Linked DNA regions of Homo sapiens: region 2 is linked to region 1. A link means that fine-mapping ties the variant in region 1 to the expression of a gene that starts in the linked region. Tissue or cell type: coronary artery. Region 1 holds a variant in brackets; the other region holds the start of a gene. All regions are shown on one strand. Distances are from middle to middle.

Region 1 (10,718 bases):
ATGTCTGGCTAGGTACCTACTCTAACATTTGAATATGATATGCCATAATGTAGTTTGTTTTTTTTTTCTGGTCCTTATACTCTCTGGTGTTCTTTGATTTTCTGGGATCAGTATTTTTGCACCTGTAATTAGTTAGGGATTACTTTTGCATTGTTCTCAGCCATTATTACTTCAAGTATGTATTCTGTTCTTTCTCCTTTATTCCTATTATGCACATGTTACACTTTTTGTGATTGCCTCACTATTCTTGACTATTCTGCGTTTTTGTCTTTTTCCTTTCTTTAGCCTCTTTGCAATATTCAGTTTGGGACATTCTTATTGACCTATATTCAAGCTGATTCATCCTTTCCTAAACCATGTCCAGTCCACTGATGAATCTACCATAAGGACTCTTCATTCCTGTTATGGTGTTTTTGATTTATGGCACTGCCTTATGATTCTTAGTTTCTCTCTCTCTGCTTGCATTACCCATCTGTTCTTGCATGTTGCCTACTTTTTCCTTTAGAACCCTTCACATATAAATCATTATTTTAAACTCCCCACCTAATATTTTCAATGTCTTTGTCATATCTGAGTATAATTCTGATACTTGTTTTTCTTCTTTAGACTGTGTTTTCTCTTGCCTTTTAGAATGCCTTCTAACTTTTTGTTGCAAGCCAAGCATGTGTTGGGTAATAGGGCCTGAAGTAAGTAAACCTTTTGTGTGAAGATTTATGATGATGTTGAGACGTGAAGCTGGCTGGGCTTCTGGGTCGGGTGGGGACTTGGAGAACTTTTCTGTCTAGCTAAAGGATTGTAGATGCACCAATCAGCACTCTGTGTCTAGCTAAAGGTTTGTAAACGCACCAATCAGCACTCTGCGTCTAGCTAATCAGGTGGGGCTTGGAGAACTTTTGTGTCTAGCTAAAGGATTGTAAATGCACCAATCAGCACTCTGTGTCTAGCTAAGGGATTGTAAATGCACCAATAAGCATTCTGTAAAATGGACCAATCAGCACTCTGTAAAATGGACCAATCAGCACTCTGTAAAATGGACCAATCAGCAGGATGTGGGTGGGGCCAGATAAGCAAATAAAAGCAGGCCACCCAAGCCAGCAGTGGCATCCTGCTCAGGTCCCCTTGCATCCTGTGGAAGCTTTGTTCTTTCCCTGTTTGCAATAAATCTTGTTGCTGCTTACTCTGTGTATGCAGTACCTTTATGAGCTGTAACACTCACCACGAAGGTCTGCAGCTTCATTCCTGAAGCCAGCGAGACCACGAACTCACCAGCAAGAAGGAACAACTCCGGACGTGCCACCCTTAAGAGCTGTAACACTCACTGCGAAGGTCTGCGGCTTCACTCCTGAAGTCAGCAAGACCACGAACCCACCAGAAGGAAGAAACTCAGGACACATCTGAACATCAGAAGGAACAAACTCTGGACACACTATATTTAAGAACTGTAACACTCACGGGGAGGGTGTGCGGCTTCATTCTTGAAGTCAGCAAGACCAAGAACCCACCAATTCTGGACACAATGTGAGTAGGGGTTTGTCTGTGTTTATTGTTTACTATACTTGTAAGCATCAGTGAATTCAAATTCCTCTTACGTACTTATTTTGCCTCCCCACTTGACTTTAGAATCCCATAAATACTTCTCACAAAATCTGCATGTTTCCAATCTTCCAGCAGTAATGCACTGTTACTTTAGTGGAGCCCTGTTTTATTAGTGGTAAATTGGGAGGGAAGAAATATATTTTTCCACCATATTATTACTTCTCAATCTTTAGTGAGCCTATGTCTTTGGAACTTCAAAATCTGGTGTTCTCTGATGGTACAGCTTTCCCCTCCTCTCTTAGATAAAACAGAAGGCTAGGAGGGGATGAAGCTGAGAAGAGGCTCTGGTGAGGTCTCTCTCCATGAAAAATGGCCTTTCTTTTGGAAAATGTTCTGCAAGTTTTTTGGAATGATTATCCTTCCCCTTCTACTGCCAGAGACAAAGAGGGATCATTTTTGGATCTTTATAAGGTGAATCTGGTAGAGGTTTTGGATGTTAAGTCTGCAAAAGTATTGGGCTATACCAAGACTGTTGCCTTCGGTAGTTTTGCGCTCATGCTAGGCTACTTGAAACTTCCAGCAATTCATCCAATTATGACTTACGTGTTTCTTCCGCATTATGCTTCTGCTGCTTTGCTCCAAATAAACAGATCTCTACCGGAACTGTGTAAGAATTTCCGTATCTTTTCAGATTCTGGGTGCCAGTTTGCCCTGCAAGCTCGCTTCTCTAATAGATCCAAAAAAGTCAATGATTTTCAGGGTTCAAGTTTTTTTGTTGTTTATTTATTTTAAGGTCAAAAATGTTGTCTTCCATGCTCATTACATGTCACAGTTAAAATGGAAATTAATTTGTTATACAATTGATAGAAACAAAAGCAATTACTCTGCTCAAAGCTAAGAAGTATTTTACGGATTCATTCCTACTGACTAATTTACAGATTTTTTTGGTATATAGTGTGTTCAAAATGTCAGGCTGCACATTACAGATATAAAAGTGCAAAAATCTCCATCCCATATTTTACAAAAATTTTATTGTGTATTTGATAAAGTAAAATTTATTGACAAATAACTAAATGGGATATGCTATTTGTGATATGTATGTGTGTGCATACTTTATATGTATATAAAATACTTGTTTGCATATATATATGAGTGTGTGTATAAAACCCCCACTCTCCCTGGAATTTGATAAGAAATATCACAGAGCACAGAGATACTTTGAAATGTTAATTTCCTACTCTGGATGTACAATCTGACATTGAGAGAAAAACAAATGAATATCACTGGAAATATTAATAATTATCTTCCTTTGTTCTTTTGAAACTTGATTAGTTTAAGTAATGGGGAAGCTAATTAGAAAATGAATAAAAATATAAAGAATGATCAAATAAGCAGTGTGAAAGTTAAATTGATTGTTTTTACATTAATTGAAATAACCTACATTATTGAAGAATTACACATGCATCAATCCCCTGCTTCTGTGCTGTGTTTTGCAAAACCATGTAAATTATATACTTTGTCCTTTTTTTTTACACACTGTCAAATCTAGGTAAAATTTACACTCAATATTTGTAAAGTGTTAATTGATACCTTGCAACAGTGTGAATGACCTCCTATTGTTTCTTGCACTTTACCAAATCGAATAATAATCCTGAGCCTCTTAAATGAAAGAAAGTTCTTCAAAGATTTATAAGCTCATGACCTGCTATTGTTCTTTTCAAGCTACTGTGACCTTCTTGGCTCATCATTCATTTAATAAAATGAATTCTCTTTTATGTAGTGCAAAGTCTCTGTTTAGAAAATCAGTGACCTTTTCTCTCGTAATAAAAGTGTTTTTACAAGTCTAGCCCTCTTTAAAATCGTTTGAGTTTATTTTTTGCATCTTTTCTAAACTGTAGAAGAATGAGCATCATCAACGACTAGTGCTCTCCCTGGCTTGAAGTTGTGCCAAGTTGTATAAAAGCTCAAGATATAGTTGCATTTAGTTTTGTGGGTTGCATTAAATAAAATGTCATTCACCATTCATAAATGCATACTTCATATTGCAGGAGGTTTTACATTGAGTCTCTCAAAGACTATTGATAATTTCTAAATATGTTATACAAACTTGTGATATAAATAATCTATAGTATTACTTCTGAGTGTGTATGACTCCTTATTTTGTTTATAACATCTGATAACAATATTCCTAATGTTTTATAATGATTTTATCTTCTAGGCCAGAATTTTTACCAATATTATGTGTGTTTTAGATAGGAAAAGTGATGGTAATCTACAGTGTTCTTTACATCCCCACTGGCAATATTTATTTCAGGTCCTAGTTGCATAAAACGAAAGCTATCTTGAAATGTACTCCTTTCAATTGTAGACATTATGGTTTGCAATCCCCTTGCCCATTTTGACTGATATGTATTATAGGCCTGCCTTGAAAATTACATGCTGGGTAGCCATCTTCCAAAATGTTTATGAATATGTAGAAATATAATAAATTTAGTGCATTAAGCTTTCACATAATACCTAAGGATTTACTTAATAATTATTAATAAATTTAGTCACATGTAAAGAAAGAAATAACATCAAGGACATTCTAAAAGGCATTAAAATTTACTCTTGGAATGCATTATATCATTTTGTTCTTAGTAAAGTTAACTTTCCAACCTTTTTATTTCAGATTCCCCAAGTAAACCTGAGAGGTGACAGCGTGCCTGCAGCCCTCGCAGCCCTCTCTCGCTCTCGGCGCCTCCTCGGCCTCGGCACCCAATCTGGCAGTGCTTGAGGGGCCTTTCAGCCTGCGGCTGCACTGTGGGAGCCCCTCTCTGTGCTGGCCGAGGCCGGAGCTGGCTCCCTCAGCTTGTGGGGAGGTGTGGAGGGAGAGGCGCGGGCAGGAACTGGGGCTGTGTGCGGTGCTCGCGTGCCAGTGCGAGTTCCGGGTGGATGTGGGCTCGGCGGGCCGTACTCAGAGCTGCTGGCCAGTGCTGCTAGCCCCGGGCAGTGAGGGGCTTAGCACCCGGGCCAACAGCTGTGGAGGGTGCGCCAAGTCTCCCAGCAGTGCCAGCCCGCAGGTGCTGCACTGGAATTCTTGGTGGGCCTCAGCTGCCTCCCCACGGGGCAGGGCTTGGGACCTGCAGCCCACCGTGGCTCCCCCACAAGGTGGGCTCCTGCACGGTGGCCCGAGCTTCACCGACAAGCGCCGCCCCCTGCTCTGCAGCACCTGGTCCCATCGACTGCCGAAGGGCCGAGTGCGGGTGCACAGCAAGGGACTGGCGGGTAGCTTCACCTGTGGCCCTGGTGCAGGATCCACTAGGTGAAGCCAGCTGGGCTCCTGAGTCTGGTGGGGACTTGGAGAACTTTTATGTCTAGCTAGAGGATTGTAAATACACCAATCAGTGCTCTGTGTCTAGCTCAGAGTTTGTGAATGCACCAGTCAGCACTCTGTATCTAGCTAATCTGGTGGGGACTTGGAGAACATTTATGTCTAGCTAAGGGATTGTAAATGCATCAATCAGCACTCTGTGTCTAGCTCAAGGTTTGTAAATGTACCAATCAGCATTCTGTATCTAGCTAATCTGGTGGGGACTTCAAGAACCTTTATGTCTAGCTAAGGATTGTAAATGCACCAATCAGCACTCTGTGTCTAGCTCAAGGTTTGTGAACACACCAATCAGTGCCCTGTGTCTAGCTCAAGGTTTGTGAATGCACCAATCAGTGCTCTGTGTCTAGCTAATCTAGTGGGGACTTGGAGAACTTTTGTGTCTAGCTCAGGGATTGTAAAAACACCAATCAGCCCCCTGTCAAAATGGGCCAGTCAGCTCTCTGTAAAACAGACCAATCAGCTCAGCAGGATGTTGGTGGGGCCAGATAAGGGAATAAAAGCAGGCTGCCCCAGCCAGCAGTGGCAACCCACTGGGGTCGCCTTTCCACACTGTGGAAGCTTTGCTCTTTCACTCTTTGCAATAAATCTTGCTGCTGCTCACTCTTTGGGTCTGCACTGCTTTTATGAGCTGTAACACTCACCGCGAAGGTCTGCAGCTTCTCTCCTGAGGCCAGTGAGATCACGAACCCACCAGAAGGAGGAAAGTCCAAACACATCTGAGTATCAGAACGAACAACTCCAGACGTGCTGCCTTAAGAGCTGTAACACTCACCGCGAGGATCCACGGCTTCATTCTTGAAGTCAGTGAGACCAAGAACCCACCAATTCCAGACACAAACCTACACTTGTGCAGTAATGAGTATGTCCAAGTTATACTTATTTCTCAATGGAGACTTAACTGGAATTAAAACTTTGCCTAGGCAACATATTAAACAAAAAATATGCATGTGGAAAACTGTGCAGTAATCATAAATTTGTCTTCTCAAAAAATGCTTTGTTAGCAATAGCAGTAACACCATTCCTGTTCCATGCAGCAACTTCTCAAAACACATTGATACTATCATTGGCCCCATTTTATAGAGGACAAAATGAGGTTCAGGGAGCTTTCTATGACCTCAATTGTCTCAAATGGGGTATGTACAGAACAAGATTTTAAACTAACTTACTCTCACTTGAGAAGCTGAAAGTCATACTCCCTATCTAATTGGTAATAAATGCAGTATGTAAAATATTCTGCTAAAAAAACATTTTTATTATTTCTCATAACTTTTGGAACTTAAAACCAATGGGAAATTTTTTCCAGTTGTAGAACAAGAAAACCAAAGTTCAGAAAGGTTAAATAAATGTTCCAAATACTCCCCACTGGTGAACAGAAT[A/G]TTAAGAATTTGAATCTGGATTTTACTCCATAGTCTGTGTTCTTAACCCCTGTAGTGACTGTCTTTATAAAAGTTGTCCTGTACTCCTCAAAAACAGCTCTGTATTAAAGTCATTTTAGCCTTTCAAATAGAATAGTATCTGCTTAACAGCAGCTCAGTGGCCCAATTACATCTTTTCATTTTTCAGCTATATGTTGAAGTGAACAGTGTTTAAAAATATGTATTTAATTACATATTTTTATAAATTTTTGTTTAGTATTTTCATTTTATTCTCATTAATATAATTAAAGGCTGTGATAATACATGTATTAGTAGTACTAATAGTATATGAATTATTATTTCTGTAATTTTAGTAGAGTTATTCTATCAGGATTTTAATTTGATAATTGTCAAATAATATACAGTAGAAAAAAATACATGAATAAGTTTGAACAAATTTATACATTCAAAATGCTGTTGTAAGCATTAATATCCTTGTGAACGCTAAACTGTCATTTTTTTGTCCTCTACTACCATTTCTGGAATAAATGTTAGTAGTTGAAATAATAAGTGGAGTTTATAGATTTAAATATGATGGAGTGGCACAAGCTAAGAACAGGCTTGTCATATTAGAGTGCAATATTTTGGAATGTTATTGATTATAGTTTTCAGAGAAAGAACACTTTATGCATCATTTATTATTACTAGCAACAATTTTTATTACCTGTATATCAAATAAATGGAAAGCTTCATCTAACTGAGAAGTAGTTGACATGAGTATCTACCACAATCAGAATAGATTCTATCACAACTTACAGTAAAGAGAGCCTACGATGTGAGAATTAGGGAGAGTATTAAAGCAAAGAATGTGCTGGCAATAGTATTGCAAGATGGAATTTATATTCCATATTTACTCCATGAAGCTATTGATTATTTGATAGATATTCTTTCTAACGCAGTGCTGGAATCCAACTTGTCTTCTTTCCATTGCTTTTAAACTAGGTTTATCTCAGGAGACAAGATATTTTCTAGGAAAATCAATGAAAGTAAAACTGAATACTGAAACTTTTACCACCATATTGGCTTCCCTTGTGCTTGGCCACTGATATACTTCCTCAGATTACAGTATTAAGAATGCAAGCTTTAAAGGCTGAGTAGTTTCCTGTAATACTCCAACAAGGTAGAAAGTAGAAAACGTTCCAAATCATATTTGGAGTGTTACAGGAGGGTAGAATTGCAGTTCTTTTTACCTCAACACCCACATGCTCGAAGAAAATCTGTTAGAGTTGTGTCAGCCTTTATGAAAGTGTGATTCTCACCAGCTTTTTTATGTGGATATTAAAACTATAGAATCCTAGGCCAAACCATATATCTACAGAATCAAAAAACTTGCTTTCAGACCTCAGAATGTGTATTTTAACCAGGACTTTAGAGAATGCCCATGTTAATTTAGGTTTGACAACTAGGGCCACAATGGCTTATAAATGAGACAAATATGGATTAGAGTGAAAGTTCTGTCAAATGACCTTTCTAAAGCCTTAGTCTCCATTATAACATCAAGAAAATAATGATTTTTATTCCATATTATTCTTCTAAAGATATAATGAAATAATATGTAAGAAGCATATGTAGTCCCGAGTAGGGCATGTATATAATCAATAAAGTTAGATAGTGTTATTATTATTAGTTATGTCTGTGAGAAAACTACAAAAAATGTTATTCATTCTTGATCTAGATGAAAGGTTGGGACTGTGTTTATGACTTGGGGTTGTGTCACAGGTATCACAAGGGCCTTCATCATAGACATTTCTTAATAAATAATTGCACTGGTCGTTTTTTGACTCACTTTTCCTCTTCCTTCACATTTTGCCAATTAAACCTCCAAAAAAAATCCAATCTATTCATGTCTATCCATTACTACTGCCCTAATATCCCAGTCCAAACCAACTCACCTCTTACTTAAAATGAAGCAATAGCCTCCTAAAAAAAAAACACTTGTAATCTTTAAAACAACAAAAAAAAAAACTGATTGAGATAGTCCCCTGCCTCCATAAAACTAATTTTTAAAACTGGCATTATTTCTTTTTAAAGCCCTTTAACAATGCATTTTAAAAAATAAAAATAAACTAAAAGTTCTTGCAAGTTCTGTTCCTTGCCTACTCTTTTAGCCCCACCTTAAAAAATGTGCCTCCTTCATTTCTGTTTCCCAGACACTATATTTCTTTTTTGAAATAGTCTCAGGTATCTCTTCTCGCAGGAATGTGTACATATCACTTTTTGGTTATGGTTTTAACCTATAACTCCCTCAGGCTTCCTGACTGCTTCTGACTAAATTAGCAGTCTTTTACCCAAGTCATTCGCTTAAGGAATTCTGTCTTAATTCCAGTCCAAATTAAATTATCCCTCCATTTTTCTCTACTTGGAATCTAGATGTTGCTGTTTTTTCCTCCTAACCCATAACTCTTTTAAAATGAAAATATTTATTTTGTATATTTTTGCTAGTTTGTTTAATGCCTGTATCCACCATGACACTGTAATCTCCATGAAGACATACGGTGTCTTTGTTTTATTTTTTACTATAGTCCCCAGGGCAAGCATACCCATGAAAACATTGGCATGCATTACATGATTCTTGTCTGAATAAATGATTGGACAGTTCAGATACTTAAGTACATGTTCTATGTTCAACAACTTGGTACTTTTATTCAAGGTTGTGTATGTGTGTGTGTATATGTATACATATACACACACACATATATATAACACATAAACATTATAACACACATATATAACACACACATATATATCATATATATATAAAACATATATATATATATATATGTTATTGGGAAGAAGATGTAGCACAGTATCATTCCTATTATATTAATAAAAGCAAGAAAACCTGCAGAATGTTCAGATCCTCAGCTTTTAGGCTCTCCTTTGGGCAACACTCTTTTAGATGTTGACAGCATAAAATTGGTTCAGCACTCAAGTCTTCATTCTGCAGATTATTTCTGTGGATAAATCAGCAGGCCTGAATAATTCTTTCCTTTAGCAAGTGCTGTGGGACAAGTAATCCAATTACTCCAGAGACTTTTGTGACATTAAGTGAAGCAATTCAAGAAATCACTAACAATATCCACTTTTAAGATCTAAAAGTATCTTACATTTAAACCTTGAATGTTTTGCTTCTTACTTTCCTTCTCTCTTTTTTTTTTCTTTCATTTCTTGGAATTTAAGTACAGATGTTTTTAAAATAGGGTAAAATTATTAGTGCTTCTATGTGATTGTGTCCATGAAGCTGTGATAAAATGCAGAAGCTCTATAATTTCTATGAAGTAAAAGTTAGCTTTGGATGTCTGTCTTCTAAGATAGCTAAGCAGAGTACATGCCAGATATTTTGCACACATTATTTCATTCAACCATTAAATATTCCCAAAATAGAATATTATTATTCTCTTACTCTAATATATTATTATTCACATCTTGCAGATGACAAAACTAAGACAAGTGTTAATTGGCATGTACAACAAACTCAGCATATTTAATTCACTCCTACATTTTTCTATTTAACTCAGGAAAAATTCCTAAATTATGTAAGTAAATAAAACAAAAGTTTTGTCTCATTAAATAGAATACTAAAAACATAAATAATAAGTCATTATATGTACAATAAGAAGTATTAAAGCTTATAAAAATAAATATAAATAAGTGGATGGTTGAAGGAGGTGGAGGAAATGAGCTATTTCACATACTGCATTCAAAAACAGCATCTCTAAATATTTTGTATTCAAACAGAGATTTCAATGTAAAAAAGAGAGTGAACTATCAAATTATTCAGGTTACTAACTTCCCAGGAAGAGGAATAGCAAGGGTGAAGGCACTAGGCAAGAATAAGTGTGGCAATTTAGAACAGCAAGGTGGTCTGTAATTGAACACAGTTAATAAAGCACAGAATGGTAGCAGCTGAGGATGGAGAAATATTTCCTTAAAATTGGGGTCCAAAGAGGCCATAGAAATGACGTTAAATATTCTTCTAAGCTTTAGAAATGTCACTGGAGGGAGGACTTTGAGGCACAAAGAGGCATATTTTAAAAAATACTTACTATTTTGAGGTATAATTGACATAAAATTGACTTCACTAAAGTGTACAATTCAAGGATTTTTAGCATATGCAGAATTGTGCAACCATGACTAGTATCTAATTTTGTAATAGTCTCATCATCTATAAGATAAATCCAGTATCTATTCCTCACCATCTCCCTTCTTCCATGCCCTGGTAACAATTTAATAAATTGCATCGAACAATCTTCTGGTGCAACTGACATGTTTGTGTAATTAATTATTTAATGCCTACCTCCCCCATTGGGCTATAAGAGTACTTAGGTGAAAGAACAATGCATGGTTTTAATTGTCATTCAACAAATATTAGTGGTATAACTGAATGGATTATA
Region 2 (8,580 bases), 810 kb after region 1:
ATGCAAAAATAAAACATAAAAAAAAAAGACCATAGGGAAATGTGGATGAACTAGTAGGGAAACACACAGACACACACACACAGAAATAGAATGGAGAAGCTAGTATGTCAGGATAAGACATCTGCATGGGAGCTGAAGTCATGAGAAGAGGAATGGAAGTCAGGTAGACAGGAAAACTGCCAGCCAGCAGCTAAAAGATTCCATGAATGGAAACTATAACCTGGAGGAAGAGGTAAAGCTGCAAAGGCAGATGCCTTGGTCTCTACAGAAAGGTGAGCATGAAACTGAAATAAGGAGTACATATTTGAAACCAAAGGGGAGACTAAGGATACTGATTCTGCCACTGACCCATTTAATCAGGGTATGGAAGCAGCAGACATATAAATTGCATCTGTTTGACACGGTTGGAAGAGATGCCATGTCTTCATAAAAGAGCAGGCTTCAGTCAAGGAAGTGGGTAGAGAATATTCTTCCTCTTGTTTGTTGGTATAAAAAAGCATGGAGATCCAGAAGGCAAAATGAGAGAATCTGCCAGGAAGAGAAATGGTAGAGATAAGTGGATCAGAATTGGTAGAAACAGGACTGAACATGAATAAATGTTCAGAAATAATAGGTAGTCCATAGACTTCAATACCTGGTGTTGATAAAGCTCAGCAGATGTGCTGTTCCTGGCAGCCTTAGTTATTGTCATCATTAATGATAAAGTGGGACTTCTGTCAAAGAAAAAAATTATCAGAGTGGGAGAGGAATAAAAATGGAAAGGACTGTCTGTACCTCAGAAGATGATAGCAAGGGAGAAAGGCAAAGCTAGTAAAACTATGGAGGTTTTCAAAATTGTGATAGAATAGAGAGGCATTTCCAACCTGTGAGTGGGAAAATTGTGATTCTTTCTAGTCTAGGATTTAATTGCATTTTTCTCTCACTGCTTCCATTTCTTGTGAGACACCTTCTGTTATTTAGACTATGTCAGGAAGAGCCTTAGACATTATTCAATCAAGCTCTTTTCTGTGAGATAACTGAAGTCCAGAGAATTCATAGCTTCTTGTCCTTAATGAGGTATATACTTAGTGTCAGTTTCGTGAGTAAAAATGAAGAATCTTGATTTCTAGTATAATTGAAATTTCAGGGATTAAAGATAATGGTGTAAGTATAGTAACTTTATATGAGAAAATAACTAGCTGAAAAAGGTCAAATTTGGGGGTGAATGTATGTTCGATTGCAAACCCATATTTTGAGGTTTTAAAGTCCATATTTTCCAAGATACTTCTACAGCACACAAATATGACATTATGTGTTACCTACTTACAGCATTTCCTTAATATCACCAATGAAATCTTGAAAATTGATGGCCAAAAGTATTTACCGACTTTTTTTTAACTTGTATCGTTGTATAGGGAAATAATGATAAAAAATGGAAACCTGATGCAACTGGGATTTTTGTAACCTTGACTTTGCCTAGCATGGAATAGGACTACACTTGAACTAACCCAGGATAGCTGTTCTATGACATCTCCCTTAACCCCAAGTCTATCCCTTTATTTTTTAGTACTTCAATGTACTTTCTATTCTGGGATGTCCAAGTAGAAAATGACCAATTTGTTTTTTTACATAGAGACTAGAGGATATACAGCTTGGTTTCTGAGAGACTTCCTTTTTTAATAATAATAAAATAATGATAATAAACAGGAGACAGAGGAGAAGAAGTTGTTTAACTTTATAGTAAATATGCTAATATTAAGGATAAGTTCTCATAACAATGTAATCTTGTAATATTTTGATCATTTAATTAACATTCCAAAGCTTTGTGTATGTGTGTGTATATATATGTGTGTGTATATATGTATGTGTGTACATATATATGTGTATATATATATGTGTGCATATATATATATGGGAGATACTAAATACTAAATACTAAAAACTAAATACTAATACTAAATACTAAAAAATTAAGGCATATTTAACAAGAAATAACCTACAAACCTATCCATGCTTCTTAAAGCCTTACTGAAAATAACAAGTCACAGAGTTTAGAATGTGGTAATACAGTAATATCAGAAAAACTATGACAGAAAGAAGGAAAGAGAAAATACTTTCTAAAATTGAGTAAACATATTCTAGAAACATTCTTATTTGAGTATGAGAATTCTGCAAATGATACTGAATTTTAAGCAATGATCCTGGATTATAGGGTTATTCTCAAAGTGGAGGGACTAAACTTAGCACATACAGACAAAAAGATGAAACAGAAATAAATCACACTTATAACCTCATCATTCCAAAGTAATCTTAATAAAATAATAGCAGGAGAGATAAATTTGAAAGGCTTTAATATTAGATACCTGGGTCAATTTAAAATGCCATACCAGACTATATTTTGATGTGCTAACACTGACCTCTCAATAGTTCTTCTGTAAATCATCAAGGAAACTTATGTAATAATCAATTTATACAATTAATGTGGTAGTTTTGGAATTAAATGCATTACCTTATAAAAGAGAAATACAAAGCAATGTAGTGAAACTTCCCAAGCAAATATATGTGTATCAACTGAAATACACATATACATATCATATACATATATATACACACACGTGTATGTGTACTTACAAATAATGCGTGCATACATATACATATGTATGTATAAAATATGTGTATATGTGTTTATATATGTAAACATAAATATAGACATAGACTTGTGAAAGAGACCAATGAAAGCAGATAATTATAATTTGAAATGGTGATTTTAATATGTATTCAGTCATAAAAGTGGACCAACATCAATAGAAAGGAAAGGACAGAGAGCTGAGGGTGTGTAAACTGCTGCTCTCTTTTTGCTGTTGGGTCAACATGTCAGCAATGCTTTCATATGGAGCAGCTTGCAGACATGAAACAAGGTGGTTCCTCCTTTCTTTGCCTTTGGATTGTGCTGTTGTTAGTGTCCAGAGACCAGACTGTCCATATAGGGTTCTTTTTGTGATTCTTTATTATAATCCCCTGAGGAAGTCAGACGAGCCTGGGGTTACTGGAGACAGTGTCTTGCTTGGCGTAGTTATCATCCACAAATCATCTGCTATAAATATATCTCAGAAGGATCATCATCAGGCCAGCTCAGTAGCCTGCAATTTATGAAGGTTATGAGAAACAATGTGAAGGGTGAAGCGCTTTATTAAGGGTGGCTTTCTTTTCTGACCCTGCCCTGACTTCTACTTGAATATAAATGATCCTGGGAGTAAGTGAACCTTTCCATTTAGGATTTAGGCTTTTAAATTGTCCCTTTCAGCTGTTATTCTTATGCCACTGTGTCATGACTTTAAGAATTTCTAAGAAACATCAAAATCAGTGTTACAAGATAATATGAGAAATCACTAGATGCAAAATAGAGGTATAACTGAACCTCACATTACATTCTTTCCTTTTTATGTATAAACCATCCAAAGCATTTTTTCCTCCGTTTTTATTCCACATCTGTCATGCTTTTTTTTCCTCTGGATAAAGTAACAGAACTGACCAAATTGCCTTGCGAAAATCATAATTACGATCTCTAGGGAAGTTGAAATAAATAAAATGTTTTTCTCCTTTGTGTTGCTCAATGTTCTTTGTTTTTAAAAGAAAATGTGTTGCTTAAACGGTGTTTCAAAATTTGTTCTGGACATAAACCCTAATTATTTCCTTTTAACATTTCCTTAAATGAATAAAAAATATTGTAAAGAACCAAAATGACACAAAACCAAAATGCCACCCAGGCTGCTCTCTTGCCGGTGATTTGTTACTGGGAAAATAGTTAAAGCCTGCTGGGGAATTATTAACTGTTTCCCCTTACAGTGTTTATCCCAGGCATTCGTTTAAGACGGGAAAGCCTTGAAGAGGGTCACTCTATTAATATGCATTAAGAAGTAAAGGACCAATTTTAATATTTCAAACAACTCCAGTGGATAACAGACCATAAACTTCCTGTTTTCACTATCAATCTCTTTTAAAATGGTGTTCTTGGCTATCCATAATCGCCCCAGGGGAGAGAAACAAGCGGAGGAAAAAAATGCAAGAGTGAGGGGAACAAATGATGGAAAATTGCTTTATTCAACTTCACCTGCCGCTCGAGAAACTCACCCTTACGAAGATTCCAGCACTTTATATGAATTACCCATTATGGTTTCCTCCCACCACATCACTGCACTATTTTAGCACTTGTTTTGCAAACCACCAACTGCGTTTACAAGTAGAAACATAATCAGGAGGCGAATGACCTTTTGTAGCATGTATCTGAAGCTGGTTTATCAGACACTTCGTCAGCCAACTGTCCAGGAGGCAAAATGACTATCTATGATGATAGATAGACAGACAGATAGATAGTTAGATTAAAAGGTGGGGAAACATCCCTTTTCCCTTTTTCCTTTCTATATAATCTGGTTTTTTCTCTTCACCCCTTTTCTCGCTTCTTCCCACCCCGTCCCCAAACCTGTTACTAGGGAAACTTGAAAAAGAATCAGATACATTAAGACTACAAAACGAAACAAAAGTTTAGACCCCGAAACCATGATTCCATTGCCAAGCACAAAGCAATGCAAGAGCCCAACGTCGGTCGCCGCACCGCGATCCTGACAAAGCCTGTATGGAGCCAGAACAAATAAGATGTTAATTGCAGCCTCGCAGAGAAAAAAATACTATTGTTCCAGCCAGAGACACTCAGCAGCTCGGTAGCTGGGATGTGCCCCCTCCGCTGCGGACTGGATCAATTCTGAATCCCGGTACTGAAATGACAGCTCTCTGGCTGCGACAGGTCTGCGCTGAAAGAAAGAGAAAGACGATCAAGTCCAGCATTCACTTCCCACCCTTCAGAGTCGCCTTCCCATCCTCCGCACCCCCCTGCCTCGCCTCCCAGTGAGTTTCTCTTACAGTTGGTCGCCGCCAGCCCCAGCGGTGGGAACTGAGGATGCAAAAACCTCCCAGACGCAGAAAATACCGCTTTCGGGACGTGCTTGGGTTTGAGTAGCCGTGACGTGCAGGCGAACCGCGGCCCTGGCTGGAGCTCCGTGGAGCCCCCCTCCCGCCAGCCTCTCCCCCGCCCTCCCGCCGGGACTCCCTCCTCTCCCACCCCGCGGCTCCCTTCGCCTTCTCTCTCACACACCCGCCCGCGCCCCCGGCAGGCAGAACTCCAGGAAGTCGCAGCGGCCGCGCCGCGCGAGCCGAGCCTCTGGCGGGCGGCGGGGCGCACCGCAGCTGTGCATAAGAAGGGCGCGCGGCACCCGGGACGCGCGCGCACACGAGCACGCGGGAGGCCGCCGCGCGGACGCGCTCCCGGGACACGCGCACCCCCCGCGCGCGCGCCCAAGGGAGAGCGAGCACTGCGCGCCGGCGCGCACACCCGAGACAGAGCTTTACTATCTCGCTCCCTCTCGCGCCTCCCTCCTCGCTGGGCATTCAAACAGCTTTCCGACATCACCAGCCAAGGATTTTTTTCCCCGCTCTCCTTAGTCGCCGTCCGTCCATCAGTACCTGCAGGGGGGAGGAGGAGGAGGGAGGAAAGCGGAAAGAGGAAAAAGCATAAGCTTGAGCCTTCCGATCCGACCACGAATACTCCTGTAATAAACCCACCGCCCCAACAAATCTGCCATAGCAGCCGCCGCCGCCGCCGGTCACTTCTCGTCTCAGCGCTTTCTTTGCTTCTTGGTTTGTTGGGGGTAGCTTTTATGAAACAAATCTTTGCTATTAAGCCACTTACATTTTGGGGGGTTCCTTAGAGTCTCCCTTGGGGGGGCTTCTCCCTCCCTTTAGCCCCCCTCGGTTTGGAGGTTGGATTCAGTTGGATACGGCGCAAGGTTCTGGGCTCCTGCTGGCTTTTTTTTCCTCTCTCTCATCGACCCCCCTTTGGTTCCCACCCCCCACCTTTTGCTTTTCGTATGTATGCATTTTTAAAAATAAATCCTGATTTTGGAAGCTGAGCCGGGGAAAATGGGCAACGGTGATTGGGACCGAAGGGGAGTCTCTCCGTCACTGTTGCTGGGACGCGTGCCTGTGCTGGTGTCTTAGAGCAAGAGCCTCCCTGAGCTTTCGGAGTGGAAGGTAAGGAAGGGGGTCCAGGGGTCACCTTTTCTCTGCCGGGGGTCGCCACCGTGGAGCTTTGGGCTTAATGTTTGAGAAGGGAGGAAAATGAAAGGAAAGGCTGTTGCTGGCGGATGGGGAGGCTGTGAGCAGATCCGACTGTCTGCATTTACTTAAACGCCGCAGTTGAAAAGTTAGAGAAGTCTGGTTTTCAAGAGATGTGCTGGGTCAGAAGGAATAAGCGGAGAGACCTAGAAAATCTGGCAGTTTTGTGTGATTGGGGTAATTTTATGAGGGGAAAATTTTAGGTTAAAAGGAAGTTAAGAGAAGGCAGTGGGTCTTCTATTGGGGGGAAAAATCTGTGGAGTGATGGCGCCGTCTATGTTCGACTAAACTAAAGTGTCACCCAGAAAATCAGTTTTGAGAATAGCTAAACTCAATGCTGGTTTGCTTCTCAGCAAGAGATAAATAAATAAATAAATAAATAAATAAATAAATAAAACATCCTTGACACCTCCGTGGCCAGCCTTTGCCCCCGCCCCCACCCCTTCTTTAAGAGGGAAACACGGCTTTTTGAACGGGCCCTGCAGTCCAAAGGGGGGTGAGGGTAATGATTTATTTTTTATTATTTAGAACAAAATAAGACTGTGTACTCCAGACTGATTAAAAATAAAGAGCATTATATTGAGTGCGCTCTCTTGAGCAGGCATTAAAGTGAATTCAGAGCTATTTCCTCACTCTCTGATCATTGATGAGCACGGCATTGCAGACATGCACTGTCAAATAAATGAAAGCAAAAGTACCAATTTCATTAGGAAAAGACATACGACCTCTTTTTGAGTTCCTGATTATAAAATGAAGTCCCCTTTCATGGATGGAATTCCTAATTTAGACACTTATTGTCACATTGGCTCTCAACGCCTACACTCTATCCTGAAGAACACTGCGCAGACCTGCATTGCCTGCAAAGTGCAACACCAAAAAAAAAAAAAAAAAAAGGAAATTATTTCCAGAATTTCTTACAACTTTCTCTGTTTTTTTTTAACCTTTAAATGCTCATTGGCTTTATTTTCTCATGAAGAAAATGCATTATTCATTGAGCTATTTGCTTGAAACAGAGAACACTGTTTTGATGGTCCCAGCAGTTCTGATGTTATTTTAAACTGCTGCTATATAGAGATTTAGAGTTGGGGCTGTGTTTGCCTATATCAAGACATAGAATTTGAATTATAATCTGGAAAATGCAGATCTATCTTCAGGGACTTCGGTCACTGGATTTGGTGTGCATGCGTTGGTGTGTGTTATGCAATGGGAAGGAAGAGGGTTTTATCCTTTGATTCAGAGAAGACCCAGGCAAAGGCATGAAAACTCTTAACTATCTATATGTCTGTATGTCTGTCTCTGTTTACAGAACAGTGGAAGAGACTGCAGCCTAAAGACTTTTAAAATTAACTTGGCATCACTTTTATCAGCTCAAAGGCTAAACAAACAAACAAAAGCAGTGTCATTTATTCTAAGAAATAACTTCTTAAAGGTTAAAGCTGAAAAATATTCAAGTTATTTTTGGATAACAACTTACAGAGGTAAATATAACCAAGGACTACTTTATTATCCAAAGCCAGGGTTAAAATTAAAAAAGAAAAGAAAAGAAAAGAGGAGCTTTGGAGTTGTTGTTGGAAAGGGAGCAATTTAATAATTGAAATCTGCTAGGAACAAAAATGTTAATGTATTTTATTACCATGTGTAAGCCTTAAATTACAGTTGATAAGATAATTTTTCAAAAATTAAAAGACTGAAACCAGCTCAATTACTATGGTTCTGGATTTTTTTTTTTTTTAACTGATATCACCTTTGGATACAGATACTAATACAGTGATCCACTTTATGTATCCCAAAAGGGCATGTCACATTGAAATGACTGCCCTAAATCCTGGTTCTCAATGGTGATGTTGAACAACAAGTCTTCCCTATGTATTTATCCATCTATGCCCTTTCTCAAATGATGGTTTTAAAATTAACTAATCCACATGAATGCCCATGTTTTTGCAAAGGAATTTCTGAGCAGTTCACATGGTGGCCCCTGCAAAGGCAAGTGGGGCATTTGGGAGATGATGTTCCATCTGTAATAAATTATTATTTGTGCTTTTAAAATTGTGGCCATAATTTATCATCATTACTTTTCACGTTTAAGAGGAGAGAAATAATGTGATGACAGCTGTTCCCAGATTATCAGATTAGATTTTGTATGATAGTGTTTACCGCAGAGGACAGAGAGAGAAAAGGTTGTATAGACTATAGACTGATTAATACTATTTCGACAATTAACATTTACATTATGACGTTTTAAAACTCCATGTTTTCCCTTTTCATTCGATAGAATGATAATGGACGTGGAGGATATCCTAGTAGATAAGTTAGGGCATTCCTATTAATAATCTATTAAATGTTATTTTTAAATTGAATGTTGCGAATTTGACCATTGTGAATGGCCACATGAGGGCGCTGTTCACACAGCAACAGATAATTTTCCTGTGTTAT

The links. PIP is the estimated chance that this variant, and not a neighbour inherited with it, causes the effect.
Region 2: ADGRB3-DT starts here. The variant in region 1 is fine-mapped to the expression of ADGRB3-DT in coronary artery (GTEx, PIP 0.96).

Annotation. Positions count from the first base shown.
Region 1 is chr6:67,820,998-67,831,715 of GRCh38, forward strand. No RefSeq gene overlaps it. Among named protein-coding and RNA genes, the nearest start is that of LINC02549, 500 kb to the right of the region's middle. RefSeq lists enhancers at 707-1,906, 4,979-5,273. The variant A/G (reference allele first, on the strand shown) is at 6,286.
Region 2 is chr6:68,629,938-68,638,517 of GRCh38, forward strand. ADGRB3-DT (ADGRB3 divergent transcript) reads right to left here and starts at 4,387. Exons shown (of 2, transcript NR_125872.1): 1 at 4,248-4,387; 2 at 2,726-3,119. It overlaps ADGRB3 (adhesion G protein-coupled receptor B3), which reads left to right and starts at 5,345. Exons shown (of 32, transcript NM_001704.3): 1 at 5,345-6,063; 2 at 7,454-7,625. It overlaps LOC127898563, which reads left to right and starts at 5,953. Exons shown (of 1, transcript NM_001414704.1): 1 at 5,953-6,030. The coding sequence starts at 5,953. The coding sequence ends at 6,030. RefSeq lists a silencer at 5,084-5,293.